Linked DNA regions of Homo sapiens. The protein of the gene in region 3 purifies or fractionates together with the protein of the main gene of each other region. This does not show direct contact. Each region holds a gene or a part of one and is shown on either strand. Other genes may lie near its edges. The genes, in order: GALNT1, CTU1, NYX, SPRYD7 and SHROOM1.

What was found.
Region 1: the proteins of NYX (region 3) and GALNT1 purify together in Homo sapiens (affinity purification with mass spectrometry; 2 studies listed by BioGRID and IntAct, with this or other methods). This does not show direct contact.
Region 2: the proteins of NYX (region 3) and CTU1 purify together in Homo sapiens (affinity purification with mass spectrometry, with the first as the bait; one large-scale study listed by BioGRID). This does not show direct contact.
Region 4: the proteins of NYX (region 3) and SPRYD7 purify together in Homo sapiens (affinity purification with mass spectrometry; 2 studies listed by BioGRID and IntAct, with this or other methods). This does not show direct contact.
Region 5: the proteins of NYX (region 3) and SHROOM1 purify together in Homo sapiens (affinity purification with mass spectrometry; 3 studies listed by BioGRID and IntAct, with this or other methods). This does not show direct contact.

What each region holds. Positions count from the first base shown.
Region 1 is NC_000018.10:35,693,129-35,696,890, forward strand, and holds part of GALNT1 (polypeptide N-acetylgalactosaminyltransferase 1), read left to right. Parts: intron 1-3,087; exon of another isoform or gene 3,088-3,211; intron 3,212-3,762. UniProt on the Homo sapiens protein: Catalyzes the initial reaction in O-linked oligosaccharide biosynthesis, the transfer of an N-acetyl-D-galactosamine residue to a serine or threonine residue on the protein receptor.
Region 2 is NC_000019.10:51,101,755-51,105,516, forward strand, and holds part of CTU1 (cytoplasmic tRNA 2-thiolation protein 1), read right to left. Parts: intron 2,837-3,762; 5' UTR 2,816-2,836; coding exon 2,308-2,815; intron 1-2,307.
Region 3 is NC_000023.11:41,471,081-41,473,747, reverse strand, and holds part of NYX (nyctalopin precursor), read right to left. Parts: intron 258-2,667; coding exon 1-257.
Region 4 is NC_000013.11:49,915,594-49,919,355, forward strand, and holds part of SPRYD7 (SPRY domain-containing protein 7), read right to left. Parts: intron 2,629-3,762; exon of another isoform or gene 2,500-2,628; intron 1,872-2,499; exon of another isoform or gene 1-1,871.
Region 5 is NC_000005.10:132,821,533-132,824,798, forward strand, and holds the end of SHROOM1 (protein Shroom1), read right to left. Parts: coding exon 3,083-3,266; intron 2,888-3,082; coding exon 2,318-2,887; intron 2,233-2,317; coding exon 2,091-2,232; intron 1,991-2,090; coding exon 1,718-1,990; intron 1,597-1,717; coding exon 1,264-1,596; 3' UTR 609-1,263; downstream 1-608. UniProt on the Homo sapiens protein: May be involved in the assembly of microtubule arrays during cell elongation.

The DNA.
Region 1 (3,762 bases), on a different chromosome or scaffold from region 3:
TGTTTTATGTAAGGAAGTTGAAAGAGTACGGAAGTTGAAAGAGTCCTGTCAAGGTGATTTTGAGCAGAGATCTGAAGAAAGTGAATGAGCAGGTCATACGAGTTTTTAGGGAAAGAGTATTCTGGGCACAGGGAAGAACAAGTATAAAGGTTTCTAAGATGACAATGTACTTAGCGCGTTCCAGAAACAGCAGGGAGACCAGTTGTCTGGAATAGAGTGAACAAGGTGGAGAGTAGTAGAAGATAAGGTCAAAGACAAAGTGAGGGTCAAATCATATAAAGCTTTTAGGTTATAGTGAGAACTTTGCATTTTGCATTTTATTCTGAATCAAATGGAAGCTATCGAAAGATACCAGCAAACTTCCACTAGAAAAGGATCACATTGTATGCTATGTGGAGAAAAACTATATGGAAACAGGAGTAGAGCTGGTGTATTGTTGAAGAGAGTAAAGGATTATGTCTGGTTTCTATCAAGCTTGAGACACTGACTGTAAAGTTGCCATTACTGAGATGGGAAAACCTACAGGAAGAGCAGATGCTCAAGGGAATCAACAGTAGTTTGGGACACATCAAATTTGAGATCCAAGTGAAGATATGAATAGGTCTTTACATTTAAGAATATTCACTTTGGGGGAGAGGTTGTGATAGAGATGTTAACTTAGGTTGTCAGCATATAGGATGGTTTTTAAAGCCACAAAACTGTATGAGGTCACCTGAGGAGGAGAAAATGTTAAGTATGAGAGAGAAGACCGAGGACAATGCCAGAGGGAATGCCACAGTTTAGAAATCATGGAGATGAGAAGGAATCAGCAAAAAAGATTGAGAAGGAGTAGGCAGTGAAATAGGAGAACCTAGAGAGTGGTGTCGCCAAGACTAAGGGAAAGACGTGTTTCAGGAAAGAGGAAGTGATCAGCTGTATCGAATACTGCAGAGAAATTGAGGAAGATGAGTACTTAGAATTGGTTATTGCATTTGGCTAGGGACATGTTATCAGTAGCCTATCTCACAGTGTTGAGAGAGTTCCCCATGGATGTTGTTAAAAACTCTGTTTTGAAGAGAGAATGGAAGAAGCAACATAGATGAATGTGTACAAGTCTTGCAAGGAATTTTCTTGTAAAAGAGAGAAGATAAATAGGTGGTAGCTGGAGGAGAATATGGGCTTAAAGGGGTTTTTATTTCTTTATTAAGATAAAACTGTGCTGATATGAGCAACCCAAAAGAGAAAATTTAAAGATGCAAAAGAAAGAGCCAACTTAACACCCATTAGAATGGCCACTATCAAAAAAACAGAGAATGACACATGTTGGCAAGGATACTGAAAAATTGGAACCCTTGTGCATTGTTGGTGTGAATGTAAAATGGTACAACTGCTATTTAAAAATAGTATGGAGGTTTCTCAAAAAATGCTCAAAAAAGAGAACTACGATATTATCCAGCAATTCCACCTCAGGGTATGTATCCAAAGGAAATGAACGCAGGGTCTGAAGAGTTACTTTTACTTACATGTTTATAACAGCACTATTCACAATAGCCAAGAAGTAGAAGCACTCCACGTGTCCGTTCATTCTGGCCCAGCTAGCAATGCTTAGGCATTGTCCAAAATTGGGTCAGTTCAAAGTAAAAAACTCCTCCTTCTTGGTTCTAAAGACAAGCTACAGAGTGACTGCTATAAATCGTGATACAACGTACAATGGAATATTTTTCAGTCTTAAAAAGGAAGGAAATTCTGATACATGCTACAACATGGATGAACCTTGAGGACCTTATGTTAAGCATAATACGACAGTCACCAAAAGAGAAATGCTGTATGATTCTCCTTATATAAGGCAGCTAGAATAGTCAAACTCATAGAAACAGAAAGTAGAATGGTGGTTACCAGGGCTGAGGGAAGGGCCTAAAGAAGAGTTACTTCATGGGCATAGAGTTTCACATTTGCAAGATGAAAAAGTTCTGGAGATTTGTTTCACAACAGCCTGAATATACTTAACACTACTAAACTGTACACTTGAAAACAGTTTAGATGGTAAATTTTATGTTATGTGTTTCTGCACCAGAATAAAAAGAAAGAAGGGATCTGTTGTTATGGGTGTCATGTATTTGGGTGGATAGGAGGTGAAATCTGTACACAAGTAGAGGGTGTTGGGTGGGGGTGGGAAGAAGAGAGGTCATCTCTTATCATGGGGAGGAAGGTAGAGGAATGGGAACAAGTGCAGGGCAGCTGTAGGTTTGGAGGTGGAAACTGGCAGTTTGTGGTGGAAGTGTGAGGACCTTCTCTTCTGGTGGCTTGTTTCCTCAGTTGAACACAAGATTATGGGCTGAGAGTGAAGAAGGTGTTGGTGAGGGGGAATTGGGGAAAGAGAAAAGGATGTAAAATAGAAATGTAAGATAAGGGAAAGCAAGTAGATCACTGAAGGAAGCCAGATGGTGGAGAGTTGGTGAAGCCATCTGGCCTGGTGTTTTCTTCAGTGCCAGGGCAGGCACAGACTTACGCATTTATCCTAACAGTTACTAAGGCTACTTCAGGATTGACTTGAGCTCCCTACCTCTGAACCTTGTTGTGATTTAAGGAATTTGTTTTCAAACAAGTGAGGGCTACATTGAGTTTCTTGAGCCTTTCATTCTCACTGATGCCTCATTAATGGGAATGTGTTTTCCTTTGCTGTGACCTCGTACTGGTCAAAGAAGGCCCAGGGTGAGTGGTGCGCCAGGGAAAGATTTCTAGCAGTCACTCTGCAGCTTGTCTTTAGAACCAAAAATGAGGAGTTTTTTGTTTTTGTTTTGTTTTTTTTGAGCTGACCCAATTTTGGACAATGCCTAGGCATTGTTAGCTGGGCCAGAGTTCGGGCGTGTGACAAAGAAACACTTGTCTGCTCCATGGTAGATGACTGCCAAGGCAAGCTTGCGTCTTACCTGCCTCTTGCCAGCTGGCTTCTGGGCAAGTCGCAGCGTTTACCCTCTGTGGCCTGCTTGTTATCGCCTTATTAACTTAACAGCTGGCCTTAAGCCTTGTACGCCCTTAATACCAGGCCACATCCTACAGGTTAAAAGTGTCATTTCTAGATTGGAGGTCATTCTTAAGAGTACCCACCATAGTGCAGCCCAGGGATCTTATGCTTCTGATCACAGCTTCACCCATGTGAGCCTTCCTTTGCTAGCAACAGTAATTTAGCCTTTCATAGATCTCTTCTCATGCTTCAAGGGTCCAGGGAAACCTGAAATCATAGGATTTTTCAGCAGAAAGGGAAATCAGAAAATGTAAATATGACTAGGGTAATAGATATAATTTAGGGCATCTGGCTTCAGCTAACGCTGACGTTCGTAGTTCCTGTAGGACCTGAACAAATGTGTTTCATTGTGGTATCTGATAGTTGTTAACTCAGGAGCTGAGTATTCTAAACAACAAAAAGTAAACAATCTAGACCTTTACTGGTTTAGTCAGTTTTAGGGGCTGACCAATTGCTTTTCCAGGCAGATCTAATAATCCTAACATTTACTGAGCATGTACTTTATGTCAAGCACAAATCTGAATGCTTGATGAATATTAAAGCACAACACTATAGGATTGTGCTGTTATTTCCACTTCACAGATAAGTAAACTGAGACACAAATAAATGGTTTAAAAAACACGGCTAAACTCACAACCATCTGGTTTGAGAGCCTGTGCTGTTAACCCCTAATGTCCGTATTCTTTCTCAAATCTAACCAGTATTTCCCTTGCAGCAGAGAGTAGAAAAGTGAATCCAGATTCACTAATGCTAGATTA
Region 2 (3,762 bases), on a different chromosome or scaffold from region 3:
AAACCACATTAATTAGGGGAGACTGGATTTGCTCCACACCTTGTCATTACAAACCCACTTAAGAGCTCCCAGTTTTGTAATAATTATTACAACAATTATTATACTACGCCTTTGAAAATGGAGTGTATAAACAAAGGGTAGAAATCACCTTGCAAGTCAGGGATTTTTCTGGAAGGCTTCATTACTTTTGGAAGTACAATTAATAAGTGATTCTATCAAATTAACTTTAAAATCCGAGGCAGCCTCTCATTCTTTTTTTTTCTCCCCCAGCTGGAATCTTGCTCTGTCACCCAGGCTGGAGTGCAGTGGCGTGATCTCGACTCACTGCAACCTCCGCCTCCCGGGTTCAAGCAATTCTCCTGCCTCAGCCTCCCGTGTAGCTGGGATTACAGCCGCCCACCACCACACTCAGCTAATTTTTGTATTCTTAGTAGAGACGGGGTTTCACCATGTTGGCCAGGCTGGCCTCGAACGTTTGACCTTGTGATTCCGCCTGCCTCAGCCTCCCAAAGTGCTGGGATTACAGGTGTGAGCCACTGTGCCCGGCCGAAGCCTTTCATTCTTTCCATACACTGTCTGCTCTTGTATGGTAAGGATTATTCTTCCCATTTTCAATCACAGAGATCTAGGGATTTCTCCAAAGTTACTCAGTAAGGAAAGGGCCACATCAGTGAATGAAGCTCAGTAAGCCTTCCCCAGAGCCAGTGGCCCTACCTAGCATGGTGGCACATGACAGCCTCAGAACTACTTTTGCCTTCATATGCTTTCAGTGTGCTGATTCTCTCCAACCATCATCTCTCACCTCCATCACCGCAGCTGGCTTCCCACTGACTGGTCTCCTCGGCTTTGTCCCTGTCCCTCCAACCCAGGTTCCTCGCCATGGCCTGGGTGAGCTTTTCAAAGTGAAACTCTCTTCATGTCACTTTTACTGGTTCCGCCACAGCCTACAGGGTAAGGCCTGACCTCTTCCACCTCTCCAGCCTCCCCTGCCCTTGCTTTCTGGGTTCCAGCCACACTGGACTTCTTGGGGCAGCCCAAATTGGCTTTTCACAGGCCAATAACCTCTCCCTAATTCTTACCCGCTTTACCTCTTCACTGTGAGCCTTCAGATTTCAAAACCGTTCCTTGACCCCACTCCCTCCACGTCATAGGGTTCTCTGTGTGTACACATAGTCCATAACATGTCCATACATGGTCAATAACATGTATAATGTTTATAATTTTGTACCTGATAACCATGCAAAGGTAGGAACTTGTGCGTAACTGTATTCTCAGCCCTAGCCTGACAATGATGATGATAATAGCATGTATAAAATGTGTAATCTATATTATATCATACGGGTTATGTAACATAACTATAATATAGATAACGTTATACTTCTACTGACTCATCTAATTGTCATAACAAGTTTATGAGCTGGGTACCATTCATAGTCCTGTTTTAGGGATGGGGTGAAACAGAAGTACAGAGTGGTTAAGAACTTTGGTATGGCCACAGTTGGGATCCGGCATATAGCAGAAACTTAGCATCTGTTTGTTGAAGGAATGGATGAAAAAGACAGAATAAAAAAGTTATCTTCCAGCACTTTGGGAGGCCGAGGTGGGTGGATCACGAGGTCAGGAGATCGAGATCATCCTGGCTAACATGGTGAAACCCCGTCTCTACTAAAAATACAAAAAATTAGCTGGGCGTGGTGGCAGGCACCTGTAGCCCCGGCTACTCGGGAGGCTGAGCCAGGAGAATGGCGTGAATCCGGGAGGCAGAGGTTGCAGTAAGCCGAGATCGCACCACTGCACTCCAGCCTGGGAGACAGAGCGAGACTCTGTCTCAAAAAAAAAAAAAAAAAAAAAGTTATCAAAGAGGAGAGGCCAACCAAGAAAAGGAATTAAGAGATGGAGATGCTTTTTAGAGAAAGAGCTGGATTCTGAAAGGTGGACCATAAGAGATCAAGCATGTTAGAAACATTTAAAAATAAGTAAAGGACCAGAGATCTCCAGAGATTTTCACCTCCCACCCCTTTGGCAATCTGTGGAGACCAAGACGGTGGCCAAGACCCAAAAACCTTTGTGATCACTGCCTGGCCCCTCTGTCTCCCCAGCGTCTTGAACCTTTAAAGGGCCCCAGCCCCAAACTGCAGCATGCGCCCTTCCGCACCTCCGTACAGGGATCCTCCCATTAAGCCACCAGGGTCTCCTCGCCGCCTTCTGGAGCATGCGCCTGAATCCCCTTTCAGGTCCCGCCTCCTCGCCTGTGCATTCGCCCCACTGCCTCGGAGAGTGCCGCTCTGCGGCCCGTACTACGCTCACCTGTCACGATGTGCGTGGCTCCCACGCGGCGCGCCCCTTCCTCCAGCGCCCGGCGCCGCAGCACTCCACAGAAGGTGCAGCAGGAGCGGCTGCGGCCGGAGCCGGCTGTGCTGCGGGCCACGGCGTCCATCGTCCAGCCCCCAAAGAGGTCTTCGTAGGCCACGACCGTGAGCGGCAGCTCCCAGCGCGCCGCCTGGCGCCGCACGGCCGCCAACGCCGCGTCCCGGTAGCCACCGATGCCCTCATCGACGGCCACGAGCTGCAGTGAGATGCCCAGGCGCGGCGCCAGCGCGCGCAGCACGTGCGCCAGCACCGTGGAGTCCTTGCCGCCCGAGGCGCCCACGGCCACCACCGCGCCGGGCGGCAGCAGGCGGCCGGCGAGCACCGTGTGCAGCACCTCGGCCTCGAAGGCGGCGCAGAAGCAGGCACCGCACAGCGCTTGGCCCGAGAGCGGACGGCGGAGGGCGGCGCGTGCAGCATGGCAGGAGGCGCACGGCGGGGCGGGCATTGCGGGAGGGGTCGGCTTCTCCTAGACAGGGAGAGAGAGGAGGTGGGTTACATATGGATTCCGGATTGCAGGGTCCCTGCCATCGGGGAGATTGTCTGGATTGCACCTCTGCCCGGAATAGACCAGGGAGACGTGTGCGCGAGTGGAGTAGCTTCTTCTAGCGCTGGGGATAGGATGGTTATAAATAGGTCCGGTGTAAGGAAGCCACTGCCTTAGGGAAGGCTTCTTGGATTGCACCCATTATGCAAGAAGAAGAGAAGTAGCTTAAGAAGCTGGCTTCATGGGTAAAGAGAGGGAGCGACAAGCAGGTTATACCCAGGATTAGGTTGTGTCCTCTCCAGAGGGATGGGGGTGTATATTAAGGCCCATTTGTCACAACCTCCAGGGAGGCCACCCTTGTTACAGTCCTGATCAGGACAAGGTAGGTATCATTGGCCTGGGCCACCAGGGCTGTTAAAAGCCCTTGGGAGGTGAGGGGTTTTTGACTCTAAGGGCAGAGGGAGGCCAGGGGACTGAAGCTCTGTGCAGCGGGAGGTGGAAAACAGGAAAGGCCAACTGATTGCACTTTGTAGGGTGGGATACGGTCTCCAGGAATGGGTTCTGATTGCATCCTATGAAAGGCAGGGTGATCACCTTCTCCAGGGAACACAGGCAGCCTGGATCACACCTCTCAGGAGACCAGCTGGGGTTGCACACATTTTGAGGGTGAGAAAATGGGTGGGCCTCCAAGATTGAACTCAACCCTGCTCTGGTATCAGAATGCCCCACAAGCTTCTGTGCTCTCACCAAGACATGGATCGGCCCATCTTTGACCTTCATCTGTTATCTTTCCTACTTCATTCTTCCCCACCCAGCCTAGACTCCAACCCTCCAGTCAAATCCTGGTCCTGCCTGCCTGGTGAACCCATAAAAACTCCCCAGGCTCAGTTCTCCTCCCCAAGCCACCA
Region 3 (2,667 bases):
CAGGTTGTTGTGGCGCAGCGACAGGCGGCGCAAGGACGGCAGCGTGCCGAAGGCTCGCTCGCCCAGGAAGCGCAGGCCGTTCCGGTCCAGGTCGATGGAGACCGCCTCGCACGGGAGCTCGGCCGGCACCCGCAGGAGGCCCGCGCGGTCGCAGCGCACCGAGCAGCCGCGCTCCACGGTGCTGCAGGCGCAGGCGGCGGGACAAGCGCGGGCGCAGGCCCCCACGGCCCAGGCGCTGGGCAGGCCGAGGACCACCGCTGCGGGGACAGGGTGGTGGGGAGTCGGGAAGGAGGAGAAAAGAGAAAAAAGGAGCAACCGTCAGCCAAAGGTCACCCCAGGAAAAATCCTGCCTGTCCGGGCAGCAGGATGCAGGCCCTCCACCGAGTTATCTTGTGTCAGGCACATGGCCTCTTCCCACCTCCGCGGCCTCACACGGGTTTATCCACCTAAGACACCCGCTCCTTTGCTTTCCGGTTACCTTAATCAGCAAAACCCAGCTGCAATCCCTGCAGCTGACCCCGTTCTAAACTCCCTCCTGCCTGTACCACCACTTGTGTGCTCCTAGTGTGGCAGGCCAGGACTCACTAATGCAGGCCTCCATAACTACTGTTTCGGCACTGACTGAATGGTTAAGTTAAATATTAAAAGCTGACCGGTCGCAGTGGCTCACGCCTGTAATCCCAGCACTTTGGGAGGCCGAGGCGGGCAGATCACCTGAGCTCAGGAGTTCACACCAGCCTGAGCAACATGGTGAAACTCCGTCTCTACTAAAAATACAAAAATTAGCCGGGCGTGGTGACGGGCTCCTGTAATCCCACCTACTTGGGAGGCTGAAGCACGAGAATCCCTTGAACCCGGGAGGCGGAGGTTCCAGTGAGCTGAGATCACGCCACAGCACTCTAGCCTGGGCGACAGAGTGAGACTCCATATCAAAAATAAATAAATAAATAAATAAATTTGCCCGTGACACGTGGGTTGGTGGCGGTGGCGCAGGCGGAACCCAGGCTCCGCGGCTCGGGGCCTGCCCTGGCCTCTACTGCGGGGTGCCGGCGGAAGTGGGGGCGCGCACAGTAGCCACGGACCTCGCCAAGACAATGCAGGCTCCAGTGACCTTTCCTGTGCCTGTGCTCCGGCTGCCCCGAGGCCCTGATGGTCTCAGCCGTGGCTTTGCCCCTGATGGACGCAGAGCCCCCCTGTAGTCAGAGGTTCTTGAAATCCAGGAGTGTTCCATAGCTCAAGAATCCTTGGAATCCCAGAAGCAGCGGGCCCGAGCCGCCCTTCGGGATCGTTACCTCCGCGGCCTGCTGGCCATGGTGAGTCATCAGGTGAGCTTCACATTGCACGAGGGTGTGCGTGTGGCCACCCACTTTGGAGCCACCGACATGGATGTGGCCAACTTCTATGTGTCACAGCTACAGACTCCCATAGGTGTGCAAGCAGAGGCGCTGCTCCGATGTAGTGACATTATTTCGTATACCTTCAAGCCATAAAGATATTGTTCACCTTTTTGCTTGAGGCTAAGCCACTGTATCCCAGGCCTCCCAATGTTCCCGAGCCAGGAACTCTGGGCTCCATGGAGTTATGAGCTCCCTTGGAATTTTGAGCCAAGCTTTAAGGAAGTCTGGACTCCTGAGACCTCCTGAGTCTAGTCAGTAAAATTCTGCAACTCTAAGAATTCTAAGATCCCATTGGAAGGAATGCTCTACCTCACAGAACTCTGAACTCTACGGAAATATGGGCCTGATGCCATTGCCTGAATACCAGGGCATCGGAGTGTGGTGATAAAGGAGGACAAACTGCACAGGGGGAAGTTGTTTATTAAAGAGGTTGCAAAGTTCAGCCACCCTGAAGATACTCCCCAGTGCTCCCCTCTTGCTAAAGAACCAGTTACCCCAGGGGAAAAAAAAAAAAAAATACATATATATATATACACCAGTGCCCTTATACAAAGGCTGGAAGGTAACAAAAGCCCACCAAGAGTTTTGCCCAAGCCTTTCCTGGGCCTTAAAGCATGACAAGATTATGAAATAATTCTTAACAGGACCCATTTAGGATTAAACAAGTTTTACTGGGGGTCTAAACTCCCCAGACCTCCACAGACAAGTTTATTGGGGGTCTGGAGGAACTCCCCAAACCTCCATGATTTAGCAGGAGACAAAATAAGGGTAATCACCCCAGCACCTGGACCCATCTAGATTAAGTAAATTTACTGAGGCTCCAGAGGAAGGTCTTCAGGACTCAGACCTTAGTTATAGATTAAAAGAAGTTAATCACATGTCTTTAGATGAATGCACACTTACACGTAGACATGTAGCTTAGAAGGTATATAAACTCTGGGCCAGGTGCGGTGGCTCACGCCTGTAATCCCAACACTTCGAGAGGCCGAGGTGGGCAGATCACCTGAGGTGAGGAGTTAAAGACTAGCCTGGCCAACATGGTGAAACCCCGTCTCTACTAAAAATACAAAAATTAGCCGGGCATGGTGGTGGGCACCTGTAATCCCAACTGCTCAGAAGGCTGAGGCAGGAGAATTGCTTGAACCCAGAAAGCGGAGGTTGCAGTGAGCTGAGATAGTGCCATTGCACTCCAGCCTGGGTGAAAAGAGTGAAACTCCATCCCCCCCCTCCAAAAAAAGAAGGTATATAAGCTCTGGAAAAGTTCGTAATT
Region 4 (3,762 bases), on a different chromosome or scaffold from region 3:
CTTACATGACTACAGCTCAACATCCAAACCAGGAAACTGACATTGGTACACTACTGTGAACTAGACTGCAGGCCTTACTCAGCTTCTAAATGTTTTTACCGGTATTTACTCAAGAGAAATGAATGTGTATATCCAAAGACATATTTTCAAACGTTCACAATAGCTTTATTTGTAATAGTCCCACACTGGAAACAACCCTAATGTCCATCAACTGGTGAAGGATAAAGAAATTGTGATATATCCACACAATGCTACACTTCTCAGCAATAAAAACTGATGAATTATTGATATATGCTACAGCATAAATGAATCTTCAAATAATTGTGCTGAGTGAAAGAAGCCAGACCAAAAGAAAAGACCATATGATTTTGTTAATATAATACTCTAGAAAATATGGGCTAATCTGTAGTGACAGAAAGCAGATCAGTGGTTGTTTGGTTGGGGCTGGGGTAGGGAGTGGTGAGTAGGATATAAGAGGCAGAAGGAAACCTTTGGGGTGGTGAATATGTTCATTACCTTGACCCTGGTGATGACAAAACAAAACATGACCGTAAAGCAAAGCAAGTAAATAATCAGCACTGCCACCCAATAGTGATTACTCCCCCTGGGTGAGGAATGCAGCTGTGGTGCGGGCTGCATCTGGGCCAAGAAAATGTTCTATTTCTTGATCTAAGTGGTAATAATGTGAGTGTTCACTTGATAGCTATTTGTTAAATTGCACATATAAGTTTAATGCACATTACTATATACTTTATATTTCAGCATAAATGCAGAAAAAAATGTAAATACTGGATTTGACATTCATGAAGTCACCAGTGATTTTAACAAGGGTGGTTTCAATTAGTGGTGTAATGGCAGCTGAATTGGGTTGCAGAACAAACGAACAATAACAATAAAGGTGTCAAATGCTCTACCCTTGAGCTAGTCAAGTAATCTATACAACAAACCCCCCACCGTGACACCAGTTTACCTGTGTAACAAACCTTCACATGTACCCCCGAACCTAAATGTTAAAAAAAAAAAAGAAAGAAAAACAATAAAGATGGCAGATATAGGTTATTCTAGAAGAAATGTGGCCATCCAGGGAAGGGGAAACACAGGACTAGTGAGGGATGCATGCCCAAAGAAGGGCGTTTGGGATGGGGCTTAGAATGTTTATAAGCACTGAAGAGGGAGGCCCATGACATGAGATATCGATGAAATAACTGACAAAGTGACGTTCCAGATTTGGGGAGTTTGGAATCCAGACTACAGATAGAGTGTTTGCAACATGCAGAGTACCACTTCTGGGATGAGATGGAAAGAAGGCAGGATTGGACCTGAAGAGAGGGAAGCTGGAGTTCACTTGTGATTGCCTGTTTTTTTTGTAAGGTAGAAGGCAAGGCATTTTCAGAGGATGAATAGAGAATGCAAGAAGCACAGAATGCATAGACATGCACAAAGAATTGCTGAAAATTATTGAGAGCTCAGATTAGGCTAGAAGTCATAACTTTGTTTTTTTTTGTTTTGTTTTGTTGTTTTCTTTTTTGAGACAGAGTCTCGCTCTGTCACCCAGGCTGGAGTGCAGTGGCATGATCTCGGCTCACTGCAAGCTCCGCCTCCCCGGTTCACGCTATTCTCTTGCCTCAGCCTCCCAAGTAGCTGGGACCACAGGCACCCGCCACCACACCCAGCTAATTTTTTGTATTTTTAGTAGAGACGGGGTTTCACCCTGTTAGCCAGGATGGTCTCAATCTCCTGACCTCGTGATCCGCCTGCCTCAGCCTCCCAAAGTGCTGGGATTACAGGCGTGAGCTACTGCGCCCAGCCAGGAAGTCGTAACTTTGTAACCACACTTCTTCAGTGTTATGCAGTCTTTTTCTTTCTACAGGCTGAGTGTAAGAAGAGACAAAATGAATGATTGGATTGATCAAGGATTAGGGATGGAAGACAAAAGAGTAAAGGGATTTAAGTTTTATGTTTATCTTTGATAGGATCAGGCTATTAAAACACTTGGTTTAATTGGACTGATTTATGAGTTCAATTTATGAAATATAATTTAGTATCTATAACCTTAGTACATTACAAATAATGCTGAATAAAAGAAACAGTTTAGAGCATTAAACTTATTTGCTACAGTTAACTTGTATAACTGTCACTCTACTGATATTTATTTTATTTCTCAGGCTAACCTATTTCAAATATCAAGCTAAATTTCCATTTACTCAAGTAAATAAAGGAATTGCTTTTAGGCTTACCCAATATGCAACACTAAATTGAGTTTTAAAACACACATTTACATGCAAGGACACAGAAGGTAAAATGACTGAAAAGTAATTTTAGGAGAAAAGAAGGCTAATGAAAACCTTAAACTAAAAGGTAATCACAAGCTTTGGCTATTATCATATTATTATTTATATTTGTTATTGTATAATTCTGACATCCCAGTTTGTCATCATTGATACTGCTATTTTTATTTTAGTATTTTAATTTTATTTTGCTTTTGAGACAGGGTCTTACTCTGGTGCCAAGGCTGGAGTGCAGCGGCACGATGATCACTGCTCACAGGAGACTTGACCTCCCCGGCTCAAGAGATCCTCTCAGCTCAGCCTCTCAAGTAGCTGGGACTACAGGCACGTACAACCACACCTGGATAATTTTAAAATTTTTTGTCGAGACGTGTTCTCACTATGTTGCTCAAGGCTGGTCTTCAACTCCTGGACTCGAGCAACTCTTACCTCAGCCTCCCAAAGTGCTGGGATTACAGGCATGAGTCATTGCACCAGTGCTGCTTTTATAGTAAACTACAACAAATGTAATTAAATTAGTTCTTTTTTTTTTTTTTCTTTTTTTTGAGATGGAGTCTTGCTCTGTCACCCAGGCTGGAGCACAGTGGTGTGATCTCGGCTCACTGCAACCTCTGCCTCCTGGGTTCAAGTGATTCTCCGCCTCACCCTCCTGAGTAGTTGCGATTACAGGTGTGTGCCACCACACACGGTTTCACCATGTTGGCCAGGCTAGTCTTGAACTCCAGACCTCAAGTGACCCACCTGTCTTGGCCTCCCAAACTGCTGGGATTACAGGCATGAGCCACCGTGCCTGGCCTAATTAGTTATTTTTCTTTCTTTTTTAATTTTATTTTATTTTATTTTTTTTTGTGGAGACTAAGTCTTGCTCTGTCGCCCAGGCTGGAGTGCAATGGCATGATCTCGGCTCACTGCAACCTCCATCTCCTGGGTTCAAGTGATTTTCCTGTCTCAGCCTCCCATGTAACTGGGATTACAGGAGTGCGCTACCACGTCTGGCTAATTTTTTGTATTTTTAGTAGAGATGGGGTTTCACCATGTTGGCCAGGCTGGTCTCAAACTCCTGACATCAAGTGATCCACCGGCTTCGGCCTCCCAAAGTGTTGGGATTATAGGTGTGAGCCACCACGCCAGTCCTAATTAGTTCTTATTATAACCCAAATTTAAGAACTTAAATGAGAAAATATTTTTAGACTTACAAAACCAAAGGCAGAAAAATCATATACCTGTTTACTTAAAGTTGATAATACAAAATAGGCTGGACACGGTGGCTCATGCCTATAATCTCAGCACTTTGGGAGGCCGAGGTGGGCAGATCACTTGAGCTCAGGAGTTCGAGATCAGCCTGGCCAACATGGTGAAACCCCATCTCTAGTAAAAATATAAAAGTTGGCCAGGTGCTCACACCTATAATCCCAGCACTTTGGAAGGCCGAGGCGGGCAGAACAGAAGGTCAAGAGATCAAGACCATCCTGGC
Region 5 (3,266 bases), on a different chromosome or scaffold from region 3:
TGTCTCCAGGTCCTTAGTCCCAGCATGGAGGGTCTTGAGGTCTCCCACCCCTCACCTTCAGCTCCCACCCTCGACTGCCCGCCTCAGGCCTGGCTGACCCAGTGGTATCTCTGAAGGAGAGGAGGATAAACAGTGTTGATAACATAACTGGAAGAAGAAAGTGCTTTCTGGGTCTTGGAATGAATGTCCCCAGATGTCCAAGTATTCTGAATATTTGTCAGGGCATTTAGGCAGCACAGCATCTGAGCCCATTTCAGTAGCTTGAGTCTTGAAAGGAGACAGGACTCCTACTTCTCTACTGAAGCTGGGATGTTGGCTAGAAACCAGCTACAGAATCTGGACTCAGCCAATCAGACCTAGGCCTTTGTGGCTGTGACACAGTCACTGGAACAGTTAGGAAATACTGGTGACAGTGGAGTTGAAAGCGCAGTATTCCCCTGGTCCCTCCTGTTTTCAAGCCAGGTTCTCCAGACTAACTAGACATTGGCAGGGTTGACTGATATTCTGCCAGCAAATCCCTCTTCTGCTCTAGTCAGCCAGGGCTGGTGACTGTGTAAACAAGACCCCTCTCACTCCTCCCACAGCTGTGCTGCAGATGACACACACACTTCTCTTAACAATTTTTATTGAAGAAAAAATAGGCTGCTTTGCACCTTAAGTGCTCCTCTGTCTTCTCTCCTCCCTCCAACCAACCCCTGCCAGCCCCACACTCTCATCACAAAATGGGGGAATACTGCAGTTTTTAAGATCCATAAATTAATTACCAAATAATACACAAGACCTGGGTGAGGCCACATGAGAACACTTTGGAGAAGTATCTTTTTTTTTTTTTTTTTTTTTTTTTTTTTTGAGACGGAGTCTTGCTCTGTCGCCCAGGCTGGAGTGCAGTGGCGCGATGTCCGCTCACTGCAAGCTCCACCTCCCAGGTTCACGCCATTCTCCTGCCTCAGCCTTCCGAGTAGCTGGCAATACAGGCACCCGCCACCACGCCCGGCTAATTTTTTATATTTTTAGTAGAGACGGGGTTTCACCGTGTTAGCCAGGATGGTCTCGATCTCCTGACCTTGTGATCCGCCCGCCTCGGCCTCCCAAAGTGCTGGGATTACAGGCGTGAGCCACCGCGCCCGGCTGGAGGAGTATCTTAGAAAGGCCTGGACTGGGTCCTCCCCAATCCCTCAAGGGAAAAGCAGAGACTAAATCAGCATCACCCCACTTACGTGGGTGAGAGATAGGGGCGGTGCACCCCACCCTCTCCACCTATAACTATGTAAGGAGAAGAGGGAAGGGCGGCTGAACTGGAGGACAGGTCCCTGGGGGCCGCGCCGGGCTGGGAGACGGGGCATGATGGCCAAGGTCGTCCCTGATGGCGTCCAGTTGGTCCTGAAGGAGGCGGATGCGCTCGTCCAGGTTGCGCTGCTGGGCCAGGACGGCGGCCTTGCCCGCCAGCAGGGCGCAATAGACGCGCAGCTCCTCCACCGGTAGTGCTCGCACCAGCACCTCCCGCACGGCCCGCTCGCGCCGCGCTACGTGCTCCTTCAGCTCCTTGGCGTCCTCCTCCTGCCGCTGCAGGAGCCGGAGTCGCTGCAGCAGGGAGGCCTTGAGCCGCAGGAAGAGGCGCCGTGAGCCGGGTGAGGGCGCCGCCGCTCCCGGAATGGTTCCAGCCGGAGACAGCAGGCCCCTCACCGCCCTACTCGCTTGCAACCTGAACCCCTTTTACCTGCTCATCAGGGTCGCTGTCTGAGGCCGCCCGGGCCAGGGCGCGGCGCACGCGCGCCAGGCGACTGCCCAGCAGCAGCAGAAGGCCAAGCACGCGCTCTAGGTCGGCCATGAACCGGCTGAACCGCTCCAGCTCCTGAGGGGCACAGGCCTGGCGCACTGCAGCCTCCAGAGCCGCTTGGCGCCTGGCCCACGCTTGTGCCTCCCCCTGCAGCCGCTCCTGCTCCGTGTGAAGGTCCTGAAGCATCTTTTGGAGGCGGGCGGCCAGCTCCACCTACAGGGAAGGCTCAAGGCTGGGGCCAGGCTCATGACTTCCCTGCCCAGGCTCTGGGCTCCTACCCACCCCCAGCCTCCACCAGCCCTTCTCCACTCACTTTCTTGCCCTGGATGCTGTTGTTTGGTGCAGGGAGCCCCTGCCCACATGGCTGGTCAAGCACAGGGTGGGTGGCAGGGTTTTCAAGCCTTGTCTCCTCCCGAGGAGCCGGCAGGAGCTGGGTGAAGCTGAACTGATAGGACCTGGGAACAAAACCAGAGCTCCCTGGGTTTCCTGTCCCCAACTTCAGGGGCTCAGTGTCCAGATTCCCTAGTACACCTCACTCACCCTGGCTCAAAAGTACTGGCAGCCTCCTCTCCAGCCTCCCCACAGGCAGGCCGCATTGCAGCCCGGACCTCTGCTAAAGGAATCAGTCCATCCAGCAGGCCCAGGGGTGGCTCTGGGCTGGGCTGGGAAGCAAGAGGGTCACATAGAGAGGGATCTAATCTGGCCAGCTCCTGAACCAGCTCCTCGAGGCACTGACTAGGCCATGTGGGCCTGGAACCAGGCTGGCCAGTGCCCCTGGCTAGGGCAGTATTGTGAGAGGGACCTGGAGTATCATTGCCTGAAAGTCCCAAGGCATCAGCTGGGACAGGTTTGAGGAGGTCACTCTCTGCAGCTGTGGGGGGATTGGTGGTCAGTCCAGTGGGGTCAATAGTTGGGATGTTATCATTTGCAGTCCCAGTGGGGGTGTGGCTTGTGGGCCTGGAAATACCTACAGAACCATTCACCCCCTGCCAGCAGTCATCTGCCCCTGCAGTTCCTGGACACTCATGGAGCGGGTACTCTGTGGGGACTGTAACCTGGCCAGTTCTTTGGCCTAAGCCAGTTCCATACGGCTGGTCAGAGGCATGGACACTGGAAGCAGAAAAGACACTGAATCAGAAAAAGCTCCAGCCACAAACAAATGGTGGCCTCCAAGGGCCATCTGTCCCTACCCCCATCACCTGGAATCCCAGGCTCCAGCTAGGAGAGCATTCCCACCCCTCTAGCGTTTTGTAGATGTGTGTGTCAGGGGGTGCCTCACGATGCTTGGAAGCAAGAGGGAATTACCTGGCTGGGGGCCCCTGGGAGGCATGGGGGTCTGGTGGTGATCTCATTCTGACCAGTGGGGCCTCTTCTAGGAACACTTCATCAGGAAGGGAGGGGAGCCAGGCAGGCACAATGCAGGTCTCTGAGACCCTCTGTTCACTGTCAGCAGGGCTGCTCTGGGGTAACTCTGCAGGATACATCACCG